Homo sapiens: one gene and its partners. The protein of the gene in region 3 purifies or fractionates together with the protein of the main gene of each other region. This does not show direct contact. Each region holds a gene or a part of one and is shown on either strand. Other genes may lie near its edges. The genes, in order: CREB3L2, DDX54, PTPN21, AMOT, ACAD8, EIF2S3B and POLR1B.

What was found.
Region 1: the proteins of PTPN21 (region 3) and CREB3L2 purify together in Homo sapiens (co-immunoprecipitation; one large-scale study listed by IntAct). This does not show direct contact.
Region 2: the proteins of PTPN21 (region 3) and DDX54 purify together in Homo sapiens (affinity purification with mass spectrometry, with the first as the bait; one large-scale study listed by BioGRID). This does not show direct contact.
Region 4: the proteins of PTPN21 (region 3) and AMOT purify together in Homo sapiens (affinity purification with mass spectrometry, with the first as the bait; one large-scale study listed by BioGRID). This does not show direct contact.
Region 5: the proteins of PTPN21 (region 3) and ACAD8 purify together in Homo sapiens (affinity purification with mass spectrometry, with the first as the bait; one large-scale study listed by BioGRID). This does not show direct contact.
Region 6: the proteins of PTPN21 (region 3) and EIF2S3B purify together in Homo sapiens (affinity purification with mass spectrometry, with the first as the bait; one large-scale study listed by BioGRID). This does not show direct contact.
Region 7: the proteins of PTPN21 (region 3) and POLR1B purify together in Homo sapiens (affinity purification with mass spectrometry, with the first as the bait; one large-scale study listed by BioGRID). This does not show direct contact.

Annotation. Positions count from the first base shown.
Region 1 is NC_000007.14:137,883,587-137,887,086, forward strand, and holds part of CREB3L2 (cyclic AMP-responsive element-binding protein 3-like protein 2), read right to left. Parts: intron 1,917-3,500; coding exon 1,817-1,916; intron 1,536-1,816; coding exon 1,409-1,535; intron 1-1,408. UniProt on the Homo sapiens protein: Transcription factor involved in unfolded protein response (UPR).
Region 2 is NC_000012.12:113,161,479-113,164,978, reverse strand, and holds part of DDX54 (ATP-dependent RNA helicase DDX54), read left to right. Parts: intron 1-693; coding exon 694-912; intron 913-1,704; coding exon 1,705-1,847; intron 1,848-1,933; coding exon 1,934-2,047; intron 2,048-2,981; coding exon 2,982-3,086; intron 3,087-3,500.
Region 3 is NC_000014.9:88,475,008-88,478,507, forward strand, and holds part of PTPN21 (tyrosine-protein phosphatase non-receptor type 21), read right to left. Parts: intron 1-3,500.
Region 4 is NC_000023.11:112,816,832-112,820,331, forward strand, and holds part of AMOT (angiomotin), read right to left. Parts: intron 2,608-3,500; exon of another isoform or gene 2,494-2,607; intron 1-2,493.
Region 5 is NC_000011.10:134,260,068-134,263,567, reverse strand, and holds part of ACAD8 (isobutyryl-CoA dehydrogenase, mitochondrial), read right to left. Parts: coding exon of another isoform or gene 3,495-3,500; exon of another isoform or gene 3,404-3,494; intron 2,525-3,403; coding exon 2,389-2,524; intron 2,294-2,388; coding exon 2,196-2,293; intron 1,831-2,195; coding exon 1,678-1,830; intron 1,437-1,677; exon of another isoform or gene 1,292-1,436; intron 1,049-1,291; coding exon 946-1,048; intron 799-945; coding exon of another isoform or gene 689-798; exon of another isoform or gene 468-688; intron 233-467; coding exon of another isoform or gene 72-232; exon of another isoform or gene 1-71.
Region 6 is NC_000012.12:10,504,564-10,508,689, reverse strand, and holds EIF2S3B (eukaryotic translation initiation factor 2 subunit 3B), read right to left. Parts: upstream 2,801-4,126; 5' UTR 2,788-2,800; coding exon 1,369-2,787; 3' UTR 165-1,368; downstream 1-164. UniProt on the Homo sapiens protein: Member of the eIF2 complex that functions in the early steps of protein synthesis by forming a ternary complex with GTP and initiator tRNA.
Region 7 is NC_000002.12:112,566,465-112,569,964, reverse strand, and holds part of POLR1B (DNA-directed RNA polymerase I subunit RPA2), read right to left. Parts: intron 3,208-3,500; coding exon of another isoform or gene 3,070-3,207; intron 1,999-3,069; coding exon 1,828-1,998; intron 1,220-1,827; coding exon 1,063-1,219; intron 1-1,062. UniProt on the Homo sapiens protein: Catalytic core component of RNA polymerase I (Pol I), a DNA-dependent RNA polymerase which synthesizes ribosomal RNA precursors using the four ribonucleoside triphosphates as substrates.

The DNA of each region.
Region 1 (3,500 bases), on a different chromosome or scaffold from region 3:
ATAATAAAATAGAACAATTCTAACCATATCTTCTAATAAAAGTTACATGAATGTGGCCTCTCTCTCTCAAAATTTCTTATGGTGGTGTACTCAGCTATTTTCAGATAACTGCAGGTATTTTTATTGGCTGCAGGTAGTGTTTCTTACTATAGTGTATTCAGCTATTTTAAGGTAACTGCAGGTATGTTCATTGGCTACAGGTAACTGAAAGCTTAGAATACAAAACCTCAGATAAGGGGGGACTACTGTACTGCCTAACCCCATGCTCATTCCTATAGGTGTAGGTGTGAATTTGTGTGTGTATTCCTTACTCACCATCCCTTTATTTCTAGGTGAGAACACCATACGCTTCTTATCTGACACCGGAGTCCCCATATTCTCTAGATCTTGGGCATAAGGTTTTGGAAGGCAGGCTGATTCTTTTTGTTTGTTTGTTTGAGATGGAGTCTTGCTCTGCCGCCCAGGCTGGGGTGCAGTGGCACGATCTCGGCTCACTGCAACCTCCGCCTCCCAGGTTCACGCCACTCTCCTGCCTCAGCCTCCCAAGTAGCTGGGACTATAGGTGCATGCACCACCATGCCCAGCTAATTTTTGTATTTTTAGTAGAGACGGGGTTTCAGCATATTGGCCAGGCTGGTCTTGAACTCCTCACCTTGCTGATTCTTTTTTTTTTTTTTTTTGATGGAGTCTCGCTCTGTCGTCTAGGCTGGAGTGCAGTGGTGCGATCTCGGCTCACTGCAAACTCCGCCTCCCAGGTTCACAATATTCTCCTGCCTCAGCCTCCCCAGTAGCTGGGACTACAGGTACCTGCCACCACGCCCGGCTAATTTTTTTGTATTTTTTAGTGGCGATGGGGTTTCACAGTGTTAGCCAGGATAGTCTCAATCTCCTGACCTCGTGATCTGCCCGCCTCGGCCTCCCAAAGTGCTGGGGTTACAGGCGTGAGCCACCACGCCCGGCCCTGACCTTGCTGTTTATTTAATTTCACTTTACAAGCCCTTACTATATACATTGCATTACATTACTCATACAATTCCACTCAGTGGAGGCAGAAACACAGCAGTTCTCTTAAAACGTCACAGAAAGCGACAGACTCTTTCCCTCATCTGCTTCCCTCTCCCTTATCAGAACTCAAAAATTAGATGTCAGAATGGATCAGGGAACACAGTCTAGAACAGCAGTTTGCAAACTGTGCTCTGTCAAGCTCTGGAGAATTCCCAGTGATGCCGCAGTCCAGTGGATGAGGGGCCCCAGGGGAACCCCCACTTGCCTCTTCAAAGGGAGAAGCTCCACTTTTACCACTTTTTAAACATTGGACTTTCACAGAAGATTCCTTTTGGAAGACTGAGAAACCCAGCTCTAGGGAAATAAAACAAGACCCTGCCCAACTTGCCACATGCTGTCTTACCCACGGAGGCTGTGTAGGGCTCCTGCAGGGAATGCTGGCTGGGCAGAGCCATCTTGGTGGCAGAAGGATAGGGCCCGTAGCCTTGAAAGAAGCTGCCGAATGCAACGGCAAAGCACAGCACCACAACCTGTGGGAGAGAAAGAGGGGAGAGAGAACACGAGGGGCTGTGGACTTCAGCCTCTGGACAGCACAGCTTTATACCCAGGGACACAGACTCTCCTCTTCAGGCCAGTGGACTGCACCCACCAGTCACATCACCAGAGTGCCTCACCGAGGAACAGCCTCAGAGTGGAGTTCCTCCATGTGGTTTCTCCTACAGCACAGCACTTGGCCTTGGCAAGTGGAGGGAGAGGGGAGACAGGGGCCAGGCCAGGGGCGGTCACTGTGCTACCCTGCTGGGAAGCTCACCATGAGGCAGGTGCCAGTCTGCGTGCCAGCTAACTTGCAGGTTCGAGAAACCTTGCCCATCACCAAAGTCTGAAGCTTCTGGAGTTGCTGAAGGAGAGTCCTGCCAATGATAACAACAGCCGTGAGGGGAGTCTGACAGAGAAGAGATGCTTTTTGATCTCTCCATGTGACCCAAGAAGGCCGCCGTGCCTTTGTGCCTGCATTTCAACAGAGCCCCAAGGGACAGTTTCCTCTGGAAGAAGATACGAACACCAGTACCTTCTAGCACCATTGTCACAGAGCTCACTGGGGCTCAGAATCAGCCTTCACACTTGAAAGTCCTGTTCTTGCACTGCCCTGAGTTAGAGGTAACTGCCTCCACATTACCCCTGACAGGCTGTGGCTTGTTTCTCAGCGATTGAGAACAAAGGAAAAGGAACACTCTGATTGGATGGTGGCTAAAGTCAGAATGGTTGTGTCTCTCCTAAATTCCTATGCTAAAACCCAGTCCTCTATGTGACGGTATTAGGATGCAGCACCTTTGGGAGATGATTAAGTCATAAATGGAGCCCTCATTGATGGGATTCGTGCCCTTATAAGGAGCTGAAAAGACTAGAGTGCTTCCCTTCCACTATGAGAGGACACAGCAAGAAGCTGCTTTTTGTGAACCAGAAAGCAGGCCCTCGCCCAACACGGAATCTCCCAACACTTTTATCTTGGACTTCCCAGCCTCCAGAACTGTAAGAGATCAATTTCTGTTGTTTGTAAGTGACCTCGTTTATTACATTTTGTTATAGCAACCTGAACAGACTAAGAAAATGTCGATTAAAAGAAGAACTCATTTAAGCAAGAGATGAGAAACATTGACAAAAACATAAAAAAGGGACAAAGGCAAAGAGAAGGAAAAATAAAAAATGACCAGCAGAGAACAACAGAAGGAGTGGCCAGAGGTGGGGGCTGTGACTGGAAATGCCAACAGAGAGTAACAGGCATTCACAGGCAGGTTAGAAGAGAGAGAGAAAGGCCAGAGGTGGGGGCTGTGACTGGAAATGCCAACACAGAGTAACAGGCATTCACAGGCAGGTTAGAAGAGAGAGAGAGAAAGGAGAGGAAAAACAAGAACGGCTCTGTTTAAGGCAGAGAGGCAAACAGCCACCTGCAGCTCAAGCCTGTGGTTCTTAAACGCTCACAGCACCTCCAGAGTCAGGAAACGAAGCCAACATATGAAAGAACAAAGATGCCTGCTCAACTGGACCCTCAAGCCCAGAGTCAAGGGTCTTTAAAACCATCCTTTGAAACAGATTCTAGCCTTTCTCCAGGAAAAAGACAAGAGAGCAAGAGCAGAAAAAAAAAAAGGAGACGTTTTATCCCTAAAATTGGACAACTGTGCCTCTCCTTAAAAGGCAAAGTTTGAGGGATAAGAACAGTCTTATATACTCTGCTCTGTGTGACATCAGCACACAGAGCAGATGGTAAAATTCTTTGCAAATTCTGAACACTGCAAGGCATAGAAAAGGATCTGACAACACACCCTCCTGAGTTAGAGCACCCGGGAAGAGTTCCCTGTGAGTGGTGTAAAGAGTTGAAGCTCCTCCTCATCCTCATCCCCCACCCCCAAACCCAGTGCATATGGCAAAGTGGAAAGATTTTATGAGCAGATGCTTTCTCTTGGGTCTCAAGGATTCTCGGAAAATGTGTGCTGTGA
Region 2 (3,500 bases), on a different chromosome or scaffold from region 3:
CATGGCTCACTGCAGCCTTGACCTCCTGGGCTCAAACGATCCTCCTATCTCAGCCTCCTGAGTAGCTGGGACTACAGGTGCATGCCACCACACCCAGCTATTTTTTTTTATTTTTTGTAGAGATGAGGTCATGTTGCCTAGGCTGCTCTCAGACCCCTGGGCTCAGGTGATCCTCTTGCCTCAGCCTCCCAAAGTGCTGAGATTACAGGCGTGAGCCACGGTGCCTGGCCTGGGTCTCTCTGTGTTTTTGTTTGGTTTTGTTTTTGAGATGGAGTCTCGCTCTGTTACCCAGGCTGGGGTGCAGTGGTGCAATCTCGGCTCACTGCAACCTCTGCCTTCTGGGTTCAAGTGATTCTCCTGCCTCAGCCTCCTAAGTAGCTGGGACTACAGGTGCCCACCACCACACCTAGCTAATTTTTGTATTTTTAGCAGAGATGGGGTTTCGCCGTGTTGGCCAGGCTAGTCTCGAACTCCTGACCTCAAGTGATCCACCCGCCTCAGCCTCCTCAAGTGCTGGGATTACAGGCATGAGCCACTGCGCCTGGTCTGGGTCTGTCTATCTAATTGTGAAGTGCAGATAATGGACACTGGGGAAGACTTGGGGAAGAACGCCCATAGGAAGCCCACCAAGTGGTAAGGGTGGGGTTAGGAGTAGGAGGCCAGTGGGCAAAGGACTGGGTGTCCCCTCCACAGACTATCTTTGAGATCAACGCCTCCAGCCGAGACCTGTGCAGCCAGGTGATGCGCGCCAAGCGGCAGAAGGACCGCAAGGCCATCGCCCGCTTCCAGCAGGGACAGCAGGGGCGGCAGGAGCAGCAGGAGGGCCCAGTGGGCCCAGCCCCGAGCCGCCCAGCACTGCAGGAGAAGCAGCCTGAGAAGGAGGAGGAGGAGGAGGCGGGAGAGAGTGTGGAGGTACAGGTTCCACCCTGGGGACCCTGGACCTGGGGTATGGGGAAGGGGTGGCTAAGTCCCAGCAGCCCATGAGGCTGTCCTAGGATCTTTGAGCAGTGGATGGAGGTGGATGCAGTCAGCTTCCCATCTGCAGAGTCGGGGCATGGTTCTTGTCCACCATCCCTCGTTTAAAACTCTGGGGCCAGATCTTTAGCCTGAGGAGCTGTGCACGACATGACACCCTCAGTGGGGTCCGGGGCATCACCAGCCACCAAACACATCAGGGCTTCTGCAGTGAGACGTGTAGGTCTCCACTCAGAGGGAGGACCATGAAGTGTCCCATTCACCTGGTGGGTGGGTCCTGGGCCTGTGCGTCCCCCAGGATGTCCCTCTCTCATGTTTTGTTTGGACAGAGGGTTCAGTAGCCAAGAAGACCAGTTGGAGACCCCTGGCCTAGTCCATGTTGTTCAGAGCAGGCCAGGCGCAGAGAGGGGCAGGGCCGGCTGTCACATAGCCTGGGGTGCGGAGCTGGAATGGGGAGTTGGGTCTCCCTCGGCCGGCACTCTCCTCCTCACCCAGCTGTCCTGCCTCTGCTGGTCCCTGAGGCAGGGGTTGCACTGTGTGTGCAGATGAGGAAACTGAGGGTCCCACAGGAGACACTGTCACCCAGCTAAGAAATGGCAAAATGAAGCTTTGAAAGTCCCCGAGAAGCCACTGGCCCCTCACTGTGGCCAGGCTGGTGGGTAGGGAGGCAGGGGGAAGTCCCCAGGGGGCAGCAGGCATGACACTGGGCCTTGGTCTGTGCTCTGCCAGGACATTTTCTCAGAGGTCGTGGGCCGGAAGCGGCAGCGGTCAGGACCCAACAGGGGAGCCAAGAGGCGGAGGGAGGAGGCCCGGCAGCGGGACCAGGAATTCTACATCCCCTACCGGCCCAAGGACTTTGACAGCGAGCGGGGGTGAGTGGCTGGCTGGGTCCTGGGTGGGGCAGTTGGGTCCGCTGGGTCCCATCAATCCAATTATGTCTCCCACTCTCCCTCTGCAGCCTGAGCATCAGCGGGGAAGGGGGAGCCTTTGAGCAGCAGGCAGCTGGCGCTGTCCTGGACTTGATGGGGGATGAAGCCCAGAACCTGACGAGGGGCCGGCAGCAGCTCAAGTGGTGAGTGATCGAGTGAGCCGCCCCTCCATGCTCGGGGTGAGTGACCGAGTGAGCTGCTCCTCCGTGCCTGGGGTGAGTGATCGAGTGAGCCGCCCCTCCCTCCATGCCCGGGGTGAGTGAGTGAGTGAGCCGCCCCTCCATGCCCGGGGTGAGTGATCGAGTGAGCTGCCCCTCCAGGCCCAGGGTGAGTGAGAGAGTGAGCTGCCCCTCCATGCCTGGGGTGAGTGAGCGAGTGAGCCTCCCCTACCTCCATTCCCTGAAGTGAGTGAGCGAGTGAGCCGCCCCTCCATTCCCTGGGGTGAGTGAGCGAGTGAGCCACCCCTCCAGGCCCAGGGTGAGTGATCGAGTGAGCTGCCCTCCATGCCAGCAGGCAGGGTGAGCTCCCTGAAGTCCTCACTCCCATCTGATCCTGCACAGCCCAGATTATGGCCTGGCTGTCCCCCATGTGACCACTCACAGCAGGTGTGATGGCCCCTGGCTGTGCTGTCCCCTTGATTTGATCACACACCACAGAGATCTTGACCCCGTCTATTCTTTTTGCTGGCAAGTCTTTCTAGACAGGGCTCAGGACCCATTCGTTCAGGACTCTAGCGTCTGGAGAGTGTATGTGACTCAACCCAGGGTCACAGCTGGGTAGGGGGAGGGGATTGGAAACCCTCCAGGAGGCCCTTGTCCCTGAGCCAGGCCCCAGTGCTGGCGGCAGTCCTCTGACCTCCGCACTCCCTTTTGAGACCTGGACTGCAGGGAGAGGTGAGGAGGGATAGGGAAGAAGCCTTTATTGAGCGCCAACTGCATGCCAGACATGGCTGCACTGCTTTCCTTTAATGCTCCAACAACCTGACAAGAGGGTCGGGTGAGGAGACAGGCCCCAAGCGGCAGCCGGCACTCCAAGGGTTTCCCTCCACGGCAGCCGTCCCAACTCCCTCTCCTGCAGGGACCGTAAGAAGAAGCGGTTTGTGGGACAGTCAGGACAGGAAGACAAGAAGAAGATTAAGACAGAGAGCGGCCGCTACATCAGCAGCTCCTACAAGCGAGACCTGTATCCTGAGGGGCGTGGCTGGGGAGGGGCGGGGCCGAGGAGCTTCAGCAGGAGCAGCTTCAATTAAGTGGAACCTGGGGGCGGGGGCGGGGGCGGGGAGGAGGGGGCGGGGCTGAGCGGCTTAAGCAGCCGCATCTCCAATAGATGGGACCTGGTGCTGGGGGCGGGGCCGAGCAGCTTCAGCAGCAGCATCTCGAACTAGTGGGACCTGTGCTGGGGGCGGGGCCCAGCAGCTTCAGCAGCAGCATCTCCAGTAAGTGGGGCCTGTGCTGGGGGCGGGCCCAGCAGCTTCAGCAGCGGCATCTCCAATAAGTGGGACCTGGTGCTGGGGGCGGGGCCGAGCAGCTTCAGCAACAGCATCTCCAATAAGTGGGACCTGTGTGCTGGGGGCGGGGCCGAGCAGCTTCAGCTGCG
Region 3 (3,500 bases):
CTTGAACCTGGGAGGTGGAGATTACAGTGAGCTGAGATCGTGCCACTGCACTCCAGCCTGGAGGCAGAGTGAGACTCCGTCTCCAAAAAAAAAAAGAACACTAAGTTTCGTTGGATATACTACACTTCCTTGGATGATATCAATATAATGAGTAGCCCCAACTGGAAAATAATGGTTCTGCCCTGTAAACAAAATCCGTGTTATTCCAGCTCTCTCAGCCTGTAACAGGCCATGAAGCCCCATGATAATGGTGCAAGAACAGAGGGAAAAGGCAACTTGGTGAGAGAGGAAAAAAATCCTAAAAGATTGCTGCTGTAATTGGAGACTGTGATTGGTACCTAACTCAATAAGCTAAGTGGATTAATTTTTAATTTTATAATTAATATTTGATCATGAGCTCCCCACATAATGCAGTCTAGACTATAAACAGCAGAGGCCTGGGTTCACATCTGGCCTCTAACTGACCAACTTCTTTCAGGCAAGTCACCTTTCCTCTGTAAGCCTCACCTAGACAGAAAGAGACAGATATATCCAGACACAGGCATACAGACTAAACACTTCCTGCTTAGGCTGAAATTTAATGATTCTAACGTGCAGAAAACAGTGATGTGCTGGTAATATTTAACAACAGGCTCTTGGAAGGAAGTTTTGATCGGTGTTTGCCCATATCCATGGTGTAAATACTCCCATCACAGCCAATTTCAAACTGTTAATGTCACATCAATTGGCTCACAAGGTTCCTGAACATTTAAGTCGGCTCTTGCTAGTCAATATGAACTAGCTCTGGCACTTCTCTGCCTGAAAATGACTCAAAATATCCCACACTGGGACACGCTGGATAAAGCTGATTGGCTGTGAGGTCAGTTCAAAAGCCAGTATTGGAAGAATGTTGTATGTAGTCAAAACTAGCCTTGAATATGCCTTAATTAGCCCTTAGAATATAAGCACAGGATTTTAATGCATACCCTGCACAGTGATTTCTTATGTGAGAACCACTGCACTAAAGGGTACAACAAAAAGAAAATCTTTATGTAGATATATGAGCACCCAAACCAGTCTGCCTTTAAGATAACAATCAGGTTGCTGGAGGTGGAGATGGGTGGAGAATTCTAAAATCATTCCTACTTGTCTACAGTTTATTTCACTGTTTTTAATACTAAACCTCCATAACCTTAATTCACATTAGGAAATTTGTTGTAACGATTAAGATAATGGCAACCCCATGTTACTATGAAAGGTCAGAGGGTACAATAGGGAATTGGCCTCTTCCACTCTTGAAAGCCATTAAGTTAAATATATGATGCCACCTCACAGTAATGTTAATATTGACTAATCTCTTTCAATGTGCCAGAACCTCATTTTTATCCCCCCAACAACTCTCTGGGGTCCTCTCATTTACAAATGTAAAAACTGAGTCACAGATTAAATAGCTTGTCTGAGGTCACATGGCTGCCTCTTTTACAAGGTAATCAGTGTCAAAACAAATAAAAGCAAATCTTTGGTTAAAATCAGTTACACTGAATCATGTAATTCAGGAGGCATTTTTTCATGCCTAACTGCATGTGGGACATAATGCCACGAAGCAGGCAGCGAAGGGATGACCGTCCTCATGATCTGAGGTTATCTGATGTGGAAGCTGAGGTTCTGACGCATGAAGGGTCCTGACCGTGGTCACAGAGAACTAACAAATGGCAGGCTCTAGACTCAGCCCCAACGTTCTTAACTTGTAGGACCTTTGCTCTTTCCTCGTGACCACAGCTGCCATACCCATTCCTTAAGTAGAATCCTTTAAGCAAAAAGGACCAAAAACATAATCCAATCACATAATTTTACTAGTATTGTGGTCTTAAAAGTCAATGGGAGAGAAAAGTTCTTTTAAGAGAACCAAATTGATCAAAGTCCTCAGATTTAACTGAACCTACCAGACCCCATTCAAAACATACAGGGATAAAATAGGCCTGAGTACTGAGCTGTACTCAGATAGCATTTGGGGAAAGTACGTGAGTCACACATAAAAACAGACCGTTCTTAATGCAATGGGAAGGGTGTTAACTATAAAAGGACCCTGTCCAGCTGGCTCAGGGATTCAGGTAGAGTTACTTTGGAAAATCTACCCACACCTTATCCTGAATCACTGCTCCCTACACTCTTAAATCTGTGTCCACTGAAGGCATTGGCCTTTACTGTTCAGGGATGTGAGTTATGTTGCATACTTGTGAAAAATTTAAAAATCAACTTAAAATTCAAACCCAAAACTTATTAAAAGAAAGCAAATTTAGGCCAGGTGTGGTGGCTCACACCTGTAATCCCAGCACTTTGGGAGGCTGAGGCAGCCAGATCACAAGGCAGGGGAATCGCTTGAACCCAGGAGGCAGAGGTTGCAGTGAACTGAGATCACACCACTGCACTCCAGCCTGGGCAACAGGGCAAGACTGTTCTAAAAAAAAAAAAAAAAAAAAAAAAGCAAATTTAAATCTGTGGTACTTTTTTTGTTAAGTAGTTTTTGTCTATGTACATTAATCTCTTTCATAAGTACTATAATAGTGTGCGTTTTTTCCTGTTTAGCAAGATGTTTGCAGCATCTTAAAGGATGTCATACACTAGGCCAGAACCACACTTGAGATGAGCCGTCCTGTCGGAGTTTGCAGTTTAGCAGCGATGGGGGGAGGAGAACCCTAGTTGCCAGGACACTGGAAGCCAACAGGAGATAGGATGGAGGCCCTAATCAAGTTAGCCTGGCTCAAGTGCAGGGCATGAGGAGTGGAGATGTGGGCCAGGAAGAGCTGGAAGCCTGAGCACTGCAACAAAATCACTTCGGTGGACACACTTCATGACAAGGCCGCAGATGCTTAGTCCCAGGTTAAGGACTGAGTTTAAAAGTTTCAGTGAAAGACTAGCAAGGCTTCAACAAGCAATTATGACTTAATAGAACATATACAGTATACTTCAATGCAGAACATACATCTACAGTGTAGATGATAACAGAATGGGCTTCTAAGTATGGGTTTAAAATTCCAGTTCAGTCACTCACTAGTCATGTGACCTTGGAAAAGTTAGTTAATATCTAAGTCTGTTTCTTCATCTGTAAAACAGGCATAACAATAGGCTTACTGTAAATAGGCCACAAAAGTAGAGGAAATGCTTGGCCCATGGCAAATGCTCCAAGGATGGTAGCTAGAGATGATGCTACTATGCTTTTTTATATTTTGCTTCAAAGTAGGTAAAAAGTGCTTAATTCATATTTATTTATTAGGCTGAATATTAAAGAACTGCATCTTCTACCGGGGACTTTCCTTAGATTCTCAGCTGAATTCATCTTTCTTTTAAATTTAAGAAACCTGGACGTCTCAGGATTTGCCTTAACAAAGTGCCACCTTCCCAACTCCAGAATCACTCTGGAGAATCACGGCCAAGATATGTAAGCTGTATCCACACACACTCCAACCTGGAGAATTATATTAGGATTGGGTACACTTTCCTGGATGCTTTTTTCAGATATC
Region 4 (3,500 bases), on a different chromosome or scaffold from region 3:
GGTACATTGTTTAATGTGGCTCTCCCATTTTTGTACCTAATTACCAGGTACAAAATGCTAACACCTAAGTATAAATAATTCATACCTAATGACTATTAGCCATTAAGGGAAACAATTAGTATGTGGATGGATCACTTCCACCATCACCACTACCAGGAATAGTATCTGTCAGTGTGCACTGAAGACAAAAAGCTTGTTCATGCCCTAGCTCATGCCCAATTAACCTCATATGCTCCCATGTCCTGTGGACACTTGTTCTACAGTTGATATTTCTCAATCCAGGGAAGACAGATGGCTAAGTGCATGGGATCTGGATCCCAACAGAGGGAGTCTGGAGACCTCTTCTACTGCTCACGAGCTGTGTAACTTGGTGCAAGTTACTTAATCTGCATGAGCCCATTTTATTCTTGAGGTCACAAATAAATTGCAAAAATACTGGGGTCTTCTCATTTTTGGCGGAATAGGAATTACAGTCACTTCTCTACCTCCCAGTGAGATAAGCTGACCTTGTTAGCTTGTTACTTAAAGGATATCCATTTAATCTTTGCAATAAATTGCATAAAATTCATGGTGGAACTGGGACAAATCACCAGGAGCAATTAACTTTTAACTGGCATTCCAGATGCTAAAGCACATTCCTCAGACACACACTCCAGTTACCATTACTGTTCATGTATCCATCTTTACAAGAGATCTTAACTATAAGGGCTTTTTACAGCTACAAAATCATTCCAAACACTTTCTCATGGATACCCAATAACCTACATCTTCCCCAAGAGTCCTCAAACCTGTACAAACCCTGGATTCTGTCGCTCAGGCCCATCTATGCCTCTGGTGTACCCACATTCTTCCAATCACATACATCTGTCATTATAAATAATTGCTGAATATTGAAGAGGGCATGCGAACTATTTGGGCAAAGAAGAATTGACATGGTACTCATAAGTACAACTGGAAAGTTGCTGCCATACATAATATTTTTCCCCAGAGCTCAAAGCACTCATTCAATCAAAAGCCTGGGAGTTATTTATACATTTATTTGGTGAAGAGCTCCTATTTTCCATTCTATGGATCTTCAGTTTCCTCACAGGTAAAAGACTAAGTGCTCTTTTTTCTCTTTGAATGAGAGCTATTACAATTTCTACATGCCTACAGAGTTAAAATATAATGTCCTGAGATTTGTTGGGGCTTGTGTGTCTCTTTTCTGCTTTGTGGGCAGAAAAGAGGGGCTTAAGTTTCATGTTCTCCAATGCAGCTCTCAAATTTTAAGGGAAAAAAATCACTATATTAACCTTCATTTTTGTTCCCAGGATTTGCAGTCCAAGGCCTGGGAGGTATTCTCTTTTAAAGACTGAACGCCCAGTTCTGAAATGGGCTTTCTCTCCACAGCTCCCCTGGGCCTCATCAAGCAACCCAGGCCTCTCTCTCAAACAAACTCAGCCACTGGCCTCCCTCCTGCCTGGAGACTGAAAGGCCCCTGCATTCCCTGGACAACAGCACATGGCCTTCCAGGGACCTTGGGAAGGAGGAGACCATGAGGTCTCCAGAAGGAGGTCTCTGGGGTCAGATAAGCTGAGGATGAAGATAAGCAGAGACAAGGCAGCTGCCCCTCAATTCCCCAGGCTGGAAAAGGAAGCAGATCTCAGTGCACCGTGATGTTGGGAAAACCAAGGCAGCCCGTCACTGGCTGGTTTGCAAACCAGCAATGGCTTGGGCAGTCACAAAGGGAGAGAAAGCCCTTCAGTGAAGAACTCAATCTGGGCTCCAGCATCCACCCACCAGGGGAAAGCAGGACGGAATGAACACTGGGGTGAAGCTCCCCGTGAGAAAAAGAGATTAAGGAATGACGGGGTAAGGGAGAGTTGGAGGGGGCGGATGTCAGAGGAAGCCAAAATACACCCCAAGTTAAATAATAACAGTAAAAGTAATGACAGTAATAATAAAGGTGGCAGCCATGTGAGCAGCACACTCTCCAGGTCCTTCCAGCACACAGCAGCCTGAATCGCTCCCCACTGACACGTTAACCAGGAACAACAAGCCGCCTGCAGACAACAGAATCACATGATTCCATGCAAGCCCTGACCTGCCTCCTGCCACTTCCGTCCCCTCATCCTGCTCCTTCCTAAGGCTACCTGGGCCACTGGGGCTCTGCAGAAAAGGGGACATAGCATACATGCAGGACAAAGGCCAGTGACTAAAATCAGGATCCTCCCCAAAGCTGGGAAGTGGGGTAGGGTGGGGGGTACACTCCTCCCAGAGACAGTAGTAAGGACTCAAAGGGAAAGTAAAAGCCACTCTACCCAGCTGACACAGCACCTTCCACCCTGCCACCTCGATGACTGGGAGCCCTCACCCTCCCCAGCCACACACACATGCACACATGTGCATGCACACACACACTCCACACTCCTGGCACACACATGTGCAATCCTGCACACACACTCTCACCAGAGCAGGTGCCACCCAATAGCCTGGAACTTGATTGATCCTCACCACAGAAACTGCCTTTCCCAGGCTCTGCAATGGTGAATCGGTGAATCTGTGAATCCTGGAGCAGGCTGCAAATTCCTGATGGTTTCTCTTGCACAACCAGCTCTGCTCTGAACTACAGAGTTAGGTCACCCTTAGATTCCACTAAACAAGGATTTCAAGAAACCTCAGATCTGGGCATGATTTCAACAATTGAAAGGAGGTGGCTGCTTTATAAACAGAAATGATTTAATTTTTAAAAGCAGTTGATAAATGTATAAACCCAGGATGCAGAAAAGGTTCAGCACTTAGAAAGACAAAGATTCTGAAATTTTAAAATTATTCAGATAGCCTTTGCCTTGTTTCTCATCTGGGGTTCTGGGCATTCAAGGTATTTATTTTTTAAGGGGAGGAGGGCATAAGAAAGATGAAGTAATAAAAGGATTGTTTATAATTTTGTTCATTTTAACAGCAAATCTCCAGCAGTTCACTGCACCTCGAAAAGCAAGCAAATGTTTTCTTAACAGCAATTTGTTCAAAGAGTTTGCTTTGCATCCTGACTTGTAATTTGTGGATTAAGGGCTCAGAATGTAGTCTTCTAATTGGTTGCTGCTAGCAGCAGTTACTTGGAAAGGTACTCACAAACTGTATAGCTAGTTGGTTAAAGGAAATAAAGGAGGGAAAATGTGTCACCACCTTAAAGCAGTACACTTCTGGAAAGCAGTTCAACTACCTCCTTTTGCCAGTAATTTGTCAATAGGTGCCACTCCCTCATGTAGGGCCCTGCAACAATTTTACGGCCAGTATTTGCCTGATGCAGACCCAAATTTCATATGGAGCATCCTCCCACTAGGGCCATTTTAGGTTTGCTTATTCATCAAGCATTATCAAGCACTCTGCTCCTTTCCCATAGAGAAAAACCTGTTACAGCAAAACTGTGTATTAAAATGCTGCTCAACAAGGGTAGATCATCATGGGCTCTGTTGCTTTTGAGGACAGAAAGAAAGAGAAATCCACAGATAACTTAGGTG
Region 5 (3,500 bases), on a different chromosome or scaffold from region 3:
CAGCGGTCTAACCTGTGGTAGCCTGTGACTCTGACATTAACACCAGAGCGGTGGGTCTCAAAGTGTGGTTCTCAGACAAGCTGTGGCAGCCTCACTTGAAGACTTGTTGCAGATACAAATTCCCAGGCCCACACTAGACCCTCTGGAGCAGAAGCTCTGGGGTTGAGGCCCGCAATCTGCGCTCCCATGCCCTCCAGGCGATTCCAGCACAGGCTGAGGTTTGAGAAGGGTGCTGTGAAAGGGGCAGGGAAGCCCCATTATATAATGTTTCCAGCAAGGCAGCCTCACGTTGCTTCACCGAAGTCACTCAAAGAAGCCTCTGCCCCTCCTGCTTTTCCAAGAGTCGTGTCATTTCAAGACTTCCGCACTGGCTGTAGAGAGTGGAGACAGCCAGGCTCCGAGCCCGACCCCAACGGCTTCCATGTTTCCTCGATAGAATGTCTGTGACTACCAAGAAGATACCCATATAGTGATGGTTTATTTTATTGAAAAATACACTAGTAATATTGAGACAGGTATCTTTTAGGCCATCTGGCTGATAATCAATATAGAGCTACTGATGACCATACTGGCTCACATTTGCCTTGTCCATCACTGTTCTTGGATCCCTGAGAACCACGTACTCGATAACCTTAGAGAAAAGCCCCGGCTGTGGTTTTCAACATGCTTTCTCATCCATTATCTCAGTTCACCCTTCTCGCAGATCTCCAGAGGAAAAGGGCAGCAGCAGAGCGATCTGAGGCCCCCCGAAAGGGACGAAGCTGCGGCTCTGGACTCCAGGCCCCTGCCAGAACAGCTCTGCGGAACGGGAGGGAGGAGGAAGCCTCGAGACAGACAGGGCTTGACTGCACCCTGAGGCCCAGGAGGCATGGGGACAGAGAGTGGGGAAAGCAGCGATCCCGCCCCCGTTCTGAAGGGAAGAGAATAACCTCTGGCAATTTTTACCTTCTAGAATCTGGTGGACCCTGGAGTCCCGCACGTACTGCTGAACAGCGTAATCCTTCAGGTAGCCGTAGCCCCCGTGCATCTGCAAGGCCTGGTTGCAGATCTGCAGGGAGACAGGGACTAGACGTCTTGGACTCTGGGAAGACTGTGGAGCAAGCAGCTTCCCTTCCTACCCCAGCCCACGATCTGGCAGCCCGCCATAAACCCATGAAAGAACCACAAACAGCCAAGCTCAAAGAGGGCCTCCACATTCTGTATGGTTAGAGACAAGGGAAGTTCACCTACTAAACTTGTCAGTTCCCCCCAGACAGGCGACTCAAAGCCCTCTGCCCCTCTCCCTTATTACCTGCCAGGCAGAAGCTGCCCACAGCCACCCTGGCTGGGATGATAAAAAGCTATGGTTCCCCCTAGTGGCAATGCAGCCTGACAATGTAAACATGGCAGAGTGCTAAATTGGGGCTGCTGTGAACCTTCCAAAGGTGGTTTCTCGCCTAGAACACAACCAAACAACAGTGACATAATGAAGTGTATAATGGCATGCAGCAGGCCTAAAAGCCAGCGATGAGAGCTCCCACATAGGCCGCTCATGAGTTCATTTATATCCTTAAGCTTAAGGTGATCCTTGTGGGATTCCAGGAGGGCTGGGTTCCAAATCTGACTCATGTCTCTCAAGACCCCTGGGCCTAGCAGCTGTTCCCTGTCCATCCCAGGAGAGCCAGAGGAATCACTTACGGCAAAGCATTCATCTGTAGCAAAGAGCTTGGCCATGGAGCACAAGGCCACTGCATCCTTCCTCTCCTCCTGCAGAGCCACTGCTGCATTGCGGACCATCAGCCGCGCGGCCACCAGCCTTGTTGCCATATCAGCCAGTGTGAATTGCAAGTACTGCAGCACAGGGAGCAGAGAACCAGACAAGACTGAGGGGCTTAGACCAGCACCTGGTGCAGGAGCCTCGGTAAGACATCTCGGAGGCGCCTTTTCTAAGTGATCCAAAGCTTCAAAGTCTCTTGCTTTTTCTATAGAGGAAATTTATTGCTTTTAAGTGCTAAGTCCACTTCACTCACCCGACACTTTAATATCGTTAAAGATATCCCAAGAAAAGATGGACAGAAATAAAGCACAAGCTCTGGCTAGGACAGTGGTGGGACTGACAGAGGAATTTCCTGGCTTCTCTCCTGGAAATGTGGGCCCTAGAGCAGGTCCCGGGCTGCAAATAGTGCAAAGCCATGTGGAGGCAAGGCAGAGGTTACCTGGTTACTGGCCAGAGGCTCTCCAAACTGCTTCCGGACATTGAGGTGGTCTCGGGTGAGGATGACAGAGGCGTGGGCAGCCCCCAGGGAGCAGGAAGCTAGAGGGGAAGAGCGCCGACGTTCCAACCAAGCTGGAAAACAGCAGTGCCTGTCCCGGACCGCTACCTCCCTGCCACACCCCTGCGTATCTCACCAATATTGATCCTCCCTCCGTTCAGTCCTCTCACGGCAATGAGGAAGCCCTGCCCCTCGCTCCCAATTCTGTTGGCCACAGGGACAGCACAGTCTTCGAAGATCACAGCTCGTGTTGGCTGGGAGTTCCACCCCACCTGGCAAAAATCAGGGACTGCGTGGTTGCCCAACAATCCAGCAGGTAGGGCGGCCTTCCCTGGGGACGGGAGCCTGTGAGGTATGGGTTTCAGCACCCAAGACTTAGACCCACAAGAACTTAAAATGAGGAAAAAGAAAAAGTTCAGGTTTAAAGGCCTGTCAGCACTCAGAAAGATACCTGTTTCAGCTAAACATTTTCTAACTTATTAAGAGAATCTACTAATGTCTACTCTACCTGACTAACCTACAAACACTTCTCACAACTTCTTTTAGGATTGTGACACCAACTGCCCCCAATTTCAGTGCCTCTAATTGAAAACCACAAACTATCTACAATCTCCCAGTTCCTCTCTGGCTCTGAAAATAGACTGCCTTTACATCATTTCCTTGCTCTCTTTTGTTGATAGGATAAACTCCATTTCTAAGCCTTTTACTGAAGGTCTTCCTGCCCAGGAGTTAGCATGGGCTTCACACACAGTAGAAGCCTAGGAAATGGTTGCTGTGTTACCAAAGAGAAGGGGATGCTAAAATGCATAATGCCTTACAGTTACAGAGGATCAGGAAGGATCCTGTAGGAAAATACAGAAACCCGAGGAGCTGTGAGAAAGAGGTACACTTAGGGGTCATTTCATTACCTGCCTTCTCTCACAAAGTCCCCCCATAACAGTACAAACTAGAGAGAGATGACTGCTTTGAGCATCTGGTCTAAAAAATCTGAATGGGTCTTGAGCCCTTATTACCAATTACGGTTACATGATCACAAGTCTCCTGTTCATGCCCTGGCCATGGCGGCTCTTAATCCTAGAAGTATCTTACTTTTCAAATTACTTACAGTACCTAAGTGTCCTTCTTGGGTTGCTGAAATACCCACAATCATCTCCAATGAGTTTTACTTTATTTTTAATCAAAGAAGCAAAAGGGACCACACGCCTTCCATTACTGAGACTTGTGGCCAACACCAGGTCTTCTCTAAGC
Region 6 (4,126 bases), on a different chromosome or scaffold from region 3:
TATTTTAATGTTATATATGGAGATTAATATTACTTTAGGTCAGCAGGAGAACCCAGGGATGTATAATCACAATGCCGTCTTCAGGGCTGGTTAAAGTTTGAATTACTTTATCAGAAGAACATGATAGAAAATATATTTTCTTTTTTTTTTTTTTTTTTTTTTTTGCTTTCTAACATCTTTTACTTATTGACCTTTTGAAACATCCAAAAATTAGTAATATTATAATCTGTGTCACAATCATATAACAGTTAAGAAAAAACATAAAATGAAGGCCTAGAAGGATCTTTGTTACTCATCTAGAATTATTTGGTATAACAGTATTTTCCAATGGAGGAAGACTATTGGATTTCAGGCATAAAACAATGCAGAAAAACATCTCAAGGCATCACAGGGAGAGGGAGATAACTTCTGACTCTAGTTTCCCGTATTTCAGGCCAGGAAGAGCAAGGGGAGAAAATTATTTGCCCATGGGAACAAGTAATCATGCTCTAAAGGACAATTTCATTCGAACCCATTCGTGCATCCTTTTCATGCAATTCGAACCCATTCATTGCATCCTTTTCATGCAAAATTTCAAAGATAAAGCAACATAAAATATGGGGCCAAAGAAAAGGGAGAAGGTCTTCAAGGATAATTTGTGCCTTTAAGTTTTTACTGGTACAACAGTCCTTCAGCCTGGAGGTACTCAAAGACGAATCATGAAAAACAAAAAAAAACTTTATTTCGAACAGTTTCAGTGATATATGTGTGTGCTACAGCAAAGGCTGGTTGTGGCAAAGTTTCATTTCAAACTGCATGATGTGGGCTAGGCAAGGTGGCTCACGCCTGTAATCCCGGCACTTTGTGAGGCCGAGGTGGGCTGATCACCCTGAGGTCAGGAGAGACTGGCCTGGCCAACATGCCGAAACCCCGTCTCTACTAATACAAAAATTAGCCCCGTGTGGTGGCACACACCTGTAATCTCAGCTACTTGGGGGGCTGAGGCAGGAGAATCGCTTGAACCTGGGAGGCAGAGATTGCAGATCATGCCACTACATGCCAGCCTAGGTGACAAAGCCAGACTCAAAAACAAAACAAAATAAAACAAACAAAAAAACTGCATAATGTATAATTTTGACATTATGTGGGAATGCTTAACTTCTGCCAAAATGTAGATTCAATCCAACATTATGCCAATTTTTATACTAATTGTAGTCCCTAAGTTTTCATAACCAAAAAAAAAAAGAGAGAATAACCTTACCGTTACCTACTAAGGTAACAAACTGTGAAATCAATTCCCCAATATCGCTTTGAAAATAAACCCCTTGGTTGTTAAAGAGAAATTGCAACTTCCAGCTCCATCCGAATGTATTATTTAACCGGTATTCTTCAGTCATCATCTACTGTTGGCTTGATTGTCACTCCTCTTCTTATCTGACCCCAACCAATTAAACGCCAGTGTTTTTCAACTCTTCGGCTAAGGGCAATTTTTTCTCCTACCTCTGTGCACACTGGATTGGTCAAAACAATTTTGCCCAAATCGGCCTTGACAGCACTAACTCTCCCTCCTGTCGACAGGGATCCTATGTTCACCATGAGCACTTCATTCTTAGACAGCTTTTGAACCTTTGCTGCTTTCTTGTCTCCTTCAGTGCGTACACCTAGAAGCCGTCTAAGCAGGAAATAGGAAATTTCCAATTCTGTGAATATCTCAGGTAAAGCTCCGACTGCACCAAGTATTTGCCCCACCATTCTGTCAGCCCGGCACAAAGTGGGGTCAATTTTTGTTCCAACTCCAATAAGACCGCCTGGAGCAGCATATTGCAGATCATTATGCTCCGCAAAAAGTGAAACAATTTTGGAAAAGATTGATTTACACATGAGTTTTCCTTCACTATCTTTGGAAACAATACCAGGTCTTACTTCTGTCTCCTGGCCCACCTTTAATACTCCTTTTAGGATACTACCACCAGCTACACCTCCCTTAAGGTCATCAACTTCACAGCCAGGTTTGTTGACATCAAAAGATCTAATAACAATAAGCCGGGGCTCTGAAGTAAAGTCTCTTGGGGGTACTGGAATTTTCTTTACTATGTACTCACAAACAACTTCAATATTGTATTTCAGCTGAGCCGAAATTGGAATAATGGGAGCTCCCTCTGCTACTGTACCTTGGACAAACGCAAGGATCTGCTCGTATTGTTCTTTAGCCTGCCTTTCTTTTACCAAATCAATTTTATTTTGTAGAATCAAAATATGCTTCAGTTTCATGATCTCTATAGCAGCCAGGTGTTCAGATGTCTGAGGCTGAGGGCAAGATTCATTACCAGCTATCAACAGAAGAGCTGCATCCATCACTGCTGCACCGTTCAGCATAGTAGCCATCAAAATATCGTGGCCAGGACAGTCAACAAAGGAAACATGTCTGACTAATCTGAAGTTCCCTTTGGTTCCTGGAATGTCTGTAGGAAACTCATCAGGCATACTGCTCCCACAAGATCGATAACATTCTGGCCGAGGGCAACTTGGGTCATCAAGTTGATAAATCTTAGCATTAGCATATCCAAGCTTGATTGTAATATTTCTTTCTAGTTCATTTTTGAACCTGACGGTGTGAACTCCAGAAATAGCTTTGACGACTGTGGATTTCCCATGAGCTACATGACCAATTGTACCTATATTAATTGTGGCTTGTCTGCTGATAACTTCGTGTGAAAGTGGCGTCAACTTGGTAACATCCAAGGTGGTGAGATCCTGACGCGAAAGGTGCGGCTGCCCCAGAGTCACCCCAGCTTCTCCGCCCGCCATGTTGCCAAAAGAGGAAGAAAGTCACCCCGGCTGCCGCCTGATCGTCTGCAGGGGTCCTAGTGCGGGGCGGGGATGCGGAGGCCGGAAGGTCGACTAGGGTCTCAGGATGGCCGGTGCAGCAGCGGCCTCAGTGCTTGGACTTCTCTCTGCTTGAATCTGCACAGTGCCTGTCGGTAGGCTTACTGGAAAACACGGTGCAAAGTTGCTGGAGCTATTCGTCGCAGACTTGGTAGATATTTGTGCAGGCAATACTGAGGGCAGCCACCCAAACCCCCGCCCCCTGGGCCCATGCGAGGCGGGTCGAAAATATATTTTCAGTTGACCACAGATAAATACTTAAAAAATTAATGGACCATTGTAATCTATTTATATGAAAATGGATCTTGTATATACAGCCTGCTATTACATTTCTAAGAAGACACAAAACCAGCAACACACTGAATAATTCTACACTAAATATTTTTCTTCTTTAAGAAGATTAATTATTAATATATTTATTTTTTGTTCGAAACAAATAGCTATGTCGTGGTTTATATTATAATTTTCATTTCTTCAAATTATGTTGGAGTGATGACCATTAATAGATGCTATATTGGAGATTTATTACAATAGCTTTATTGAGGTATAGTTTATATACAAAAAAACTGTGCATTTTTAACGTATACAATTTGATGAGTTTGGACATATGCATACATTCGTAATACCATCACCCAATGAAGATAGTAGGCATGTTTATCATCTACAAAGTTTTTCTTGAGTACCTTTATTTTGGGAGCAGAGGGCAAGTAAGACACTTGACATGAGATCTACCCTCCTAGCAGATTTTAAAGTGATCAACGTATTGTTGCTAACTATACGTACTATGTGGTACAGTATATCTCTAGAACTTATTCGTCTTTCGTAACTGAAACTTAACCAATTGAAAGTGAGTCCCTGGTAACCACCATTCTCTGTTCCTATGAATTTGACTACTTTAGATAACTCATATAGTATAATCATAAAGCATTTGTTCTTCTGTGACTGGCTTATTTTATTTAGCTTAATGTCCTCAAGGGTCATTCATGTTGTCATGAATGGCAGAATATTCTTTCTTTAAGGCTGAAGAATATTCCATCATATGTACATACTACATTTTCTTTATCTGTTCATCTGTCAGTGTACATTTAGGTTGTTTAAATATTATTTATTCTTGATAATCCTACCATTGATGTGGGAGTGCAGATATCTCTTCAAGATACTAATTTTAATTCTTTTGGATATACTGTATACCCAGAAGTGATATTATTGGGTTATATGGGTAGTTTTACTCTTAATTTTTGAGGAAGCTCTATACACCTTT
Region 7 (3,500 bases), on a different chromosome or scaffold from region 3:
ACTGATAGAAGAGGAGGAAAGAGAGAAAAGGATAGGAGCAATGTTTTTAAAAATAATGACAGAAGAGTTTAGCAATTTAATTAAACTGAAAAAAAACAAAATTTGAGGCCGGGCGCAGTGGCTCACGCCTGTAATACAGCACTTTGGGAGGCCAAAGTGGGCAGGTCACCTGAGGTCAGGAGTTCGAGACCAGCCTTGCCAACATGGTGAAACCCCGTCTCTACTAAAAATACAAAAATTAGCTGGGTGTGGTGGTGAGTCCCTGTAGACCCAGCTACTTGGAAGGCTGAAGCAGGAGAATCACTTGAACCCAGGAGACAGAGGTTGCAGTAAGCCGAGATCACACCACTGCACTCCAGCCTAGGCGACAGAGCGAGACTCTGTCTCAAAAAAAAAAAAAAAGAAACACACTATATTCAGAAGACTGCTGCCTTCTAACTAGAAATGACAGAGACTAAGAAGAGACAGTGTAACAACAACTTTTAAGTGTTGGAAGAAAAATAACTGTCAACTCAGAATTGTATATCCAGTGAAAGATTCCTTCAAGTGAAGCAAAATAAAGACATTTTCAGATAAATGAAAACAAAGAGAATTTGTGGCCAGCAACCTGCACTATAAAAAAATGCTAAAGGAAGATTATCAGGCTGAAGGAAAATTGTATACAATGAAAACTTGAATCTTGCAGCAGGAATGAAGAGGACTGGAAGTGATAAATATGCGGGTGACTATAATTGCTTGTATTCTTCAAAAAATCAAATAATAAGACCTCAGGCACACCCAAATCTATGGACATTCTATACCTTTTTCTTCAAAAATGTCAATGTCAAAGACAAAGAATGTTTAAAGATCTGTCATAAATTACAGGAAACTAAATAGACATGCCAACTAAATACAATGAGTGATCCTGGGCTGGTTGCTTGTGGCACAGAAAAAAGAAAAACTTGCCATAAACTGTATTTTTGGAACAAATGGTCAGCATATGTAAATAAGGACAATAAAAGAGTGTGCTAGTATCAAGTTTACTTTCCTGATTGTGACTGTAACATCATCCCTCTTCCTTACCCATCTGGCATTGGTACATGTTCCGTGGACTCTGGTTGTGATCAGAGAAAGGGATGAAGTTGGCAATCACACTCAGCAGGCTGTGTGGAAAGAGTTCCTGGTGTGTGGTAACTCCAGCAAAAACTTCATCCTCAAAGATAGCGACATTCATGAAGATCTGGAAGAGCAGATGTCCAAGGCACAAAATAACTGCAACTGGTTACACATTTACTCTTACCATTTCTCAGAGTTCAGTACTCAAAGACTCAAGAGAAAACCATCCCCACCCAGCATCATGAGTGCTGAAGGGATCAACTGGGAAGCACAGGGAAGCGACCAGTTAGAAATACCACTTGCTTTACGTATCTCACTCTAAAACTACCCCAGACCAATTGTGAAGGGGAATAGGAAGAAAAATTTTTAAGTAGCACAAAGCCTATAATTTTGCAACTGTAAATATGTAGGCAAAGACTGAGTGTGAATCTAATGGAATGTTTTCACTTCACGGCTGAGGCAGAGCCAGGTACAAAGGAGTTCTGGGAGCTAGATAAGATGGGAGGCAGGTAATGTGACCACCAGCCCTCTCTCAGGTTCTGTGGAGTGAGATCAGACATGGAAATTGCTCTGTGCTGATCATAGAGGAGGTGGAAAGTCTGACTTTCTTTCAAATGTCCAACTGTTGTTGTAACATTAACAACCCTTTTAAAAAAGGAAGAGTTAAGTCTCTGAAAGTTGTATACTATACAAACAAGCACATACACTCATCCATCACACATATGTATTTACCTGTTCCATAGTTCCAATTAGCTCTTCTTTGCCCAATGCTAAGTTCTGCACAGGCCGTACCAGTCTACAAGGAGTGGTAAAAAGGAACAATCCTGGGTACAGACTTGGTTTTCCTGTCATGGGTATAAGGACCACTTCCATCCAGGGAGGAATTCTTTTCTCTCTCAACACCTGTTTTTAACAAAAACAGAGTTTAACAAACCTGTCCCAAGGCCATGGCTGTCGCTGCCAGTCTTATGCCCCATGGAATACCACTCATCCACACTCAGCCATGGTAAAAGCCCTACTTCCTTGGGTGCTCACCCCAGCTAGTAGGCAAATCACTAACTACTGAGGCTAAGGATAAAGCACACCATGAATGCACGTGTCGATACACTAAAGGAAATTCTGTCCTCTGTGATCTAAAATACAGTAGATTACTGGTTTTATTTGTAAATTTAATAAACCAAAAACTCATGGGTGGGCCGGGGGTGGCTTATACCTGTAATCCCAGCACTTTAGGAGGCCAAAGTGGGTGGATCACTTGAGCCCAGAGGTTCAAGACCAGCCTGGGCAACATGATGAAACCCCGTCTCTACAAAAATTAAAAAATTACCTGAGTGTGGTGGTACGTGCCTGTAGTCCCAGCTAATCGGGAGGCTGAGGTGGGAGGATCACTTGAGCCCAGGAGGTTGAGGCTGCAGTGAGCCATGATCATGCCACTGCACTCCAGCCTGGGTGACAGAGTGACCCTGTCTCAAAAACAAAACAAAAAAACTCCAACAAACTCCTGGGTGAAAGGAGAAATAAAAACCTAAATTACAGAAACCTGAAAACAACAACAACAACAACAACAACAACAAACCCATGTGTCAGAACTCATGGGGATTCACAGCTAGATGCATTATCATTAAAAATGAGAGAATGTTTGGTGGAGGGGGACACGGGGAGATGTTGGTCAAAGAGTATAAAGCTTCAGTTATGCAACAAAATTAAGTTTCTGGAGATCTCATGTACAGCATGTGACTATAGTTAAGAATACTATATTGCATGCTTGAAATTTACTAAGAGAGCAGATCTTAAGTGTCCTCATCCTCCGATGCTCCACAATGCTAACCAAAAAAAAGAGAATGAAAATAAATTCTCTATAAAAAAGATAAAATCTGAGACTAATGAGGCAGGTAGCTCATTTGAGGTCAGGAGTTCGAGACCAGCCGGGGCAACATGGAGAAACCCCATCTCTACTAAAAATATAAAAATTACCCAGGCATGGTGGTGTGCACCTGTAATCCCAGCTACTTGGGAGACCGAGGCAGGAGAATTGCTTGAACATGGGAGGCGGAGGCTGCAGTGAGCCAAGATCACACCACTGCACTGCAGCCTGGGCGACAGAGCGAGACTCTGCCTCAAAAAAAAAAAAAAAGAGGAATGATTGTTTAATGGTTACAGAGTTTCAATTTGTGATGATGAGAAAGTTCTGAAGATGGTGATGACTCCACAACATGAATGTACTTAAAACCCTCAACTGTACACTAGATCAAATCTCATACACTTTCTGAGCATCAAAATAAGTAGTAACAGAATATTCACAAAATTAAACAAGCATCTATAAATCTACGCTAACATAAATAAATGAACAACTAATAGAAAAGAAAGCCCTCCCTTACAGAATAGCAACTAATAAACATAGAAAA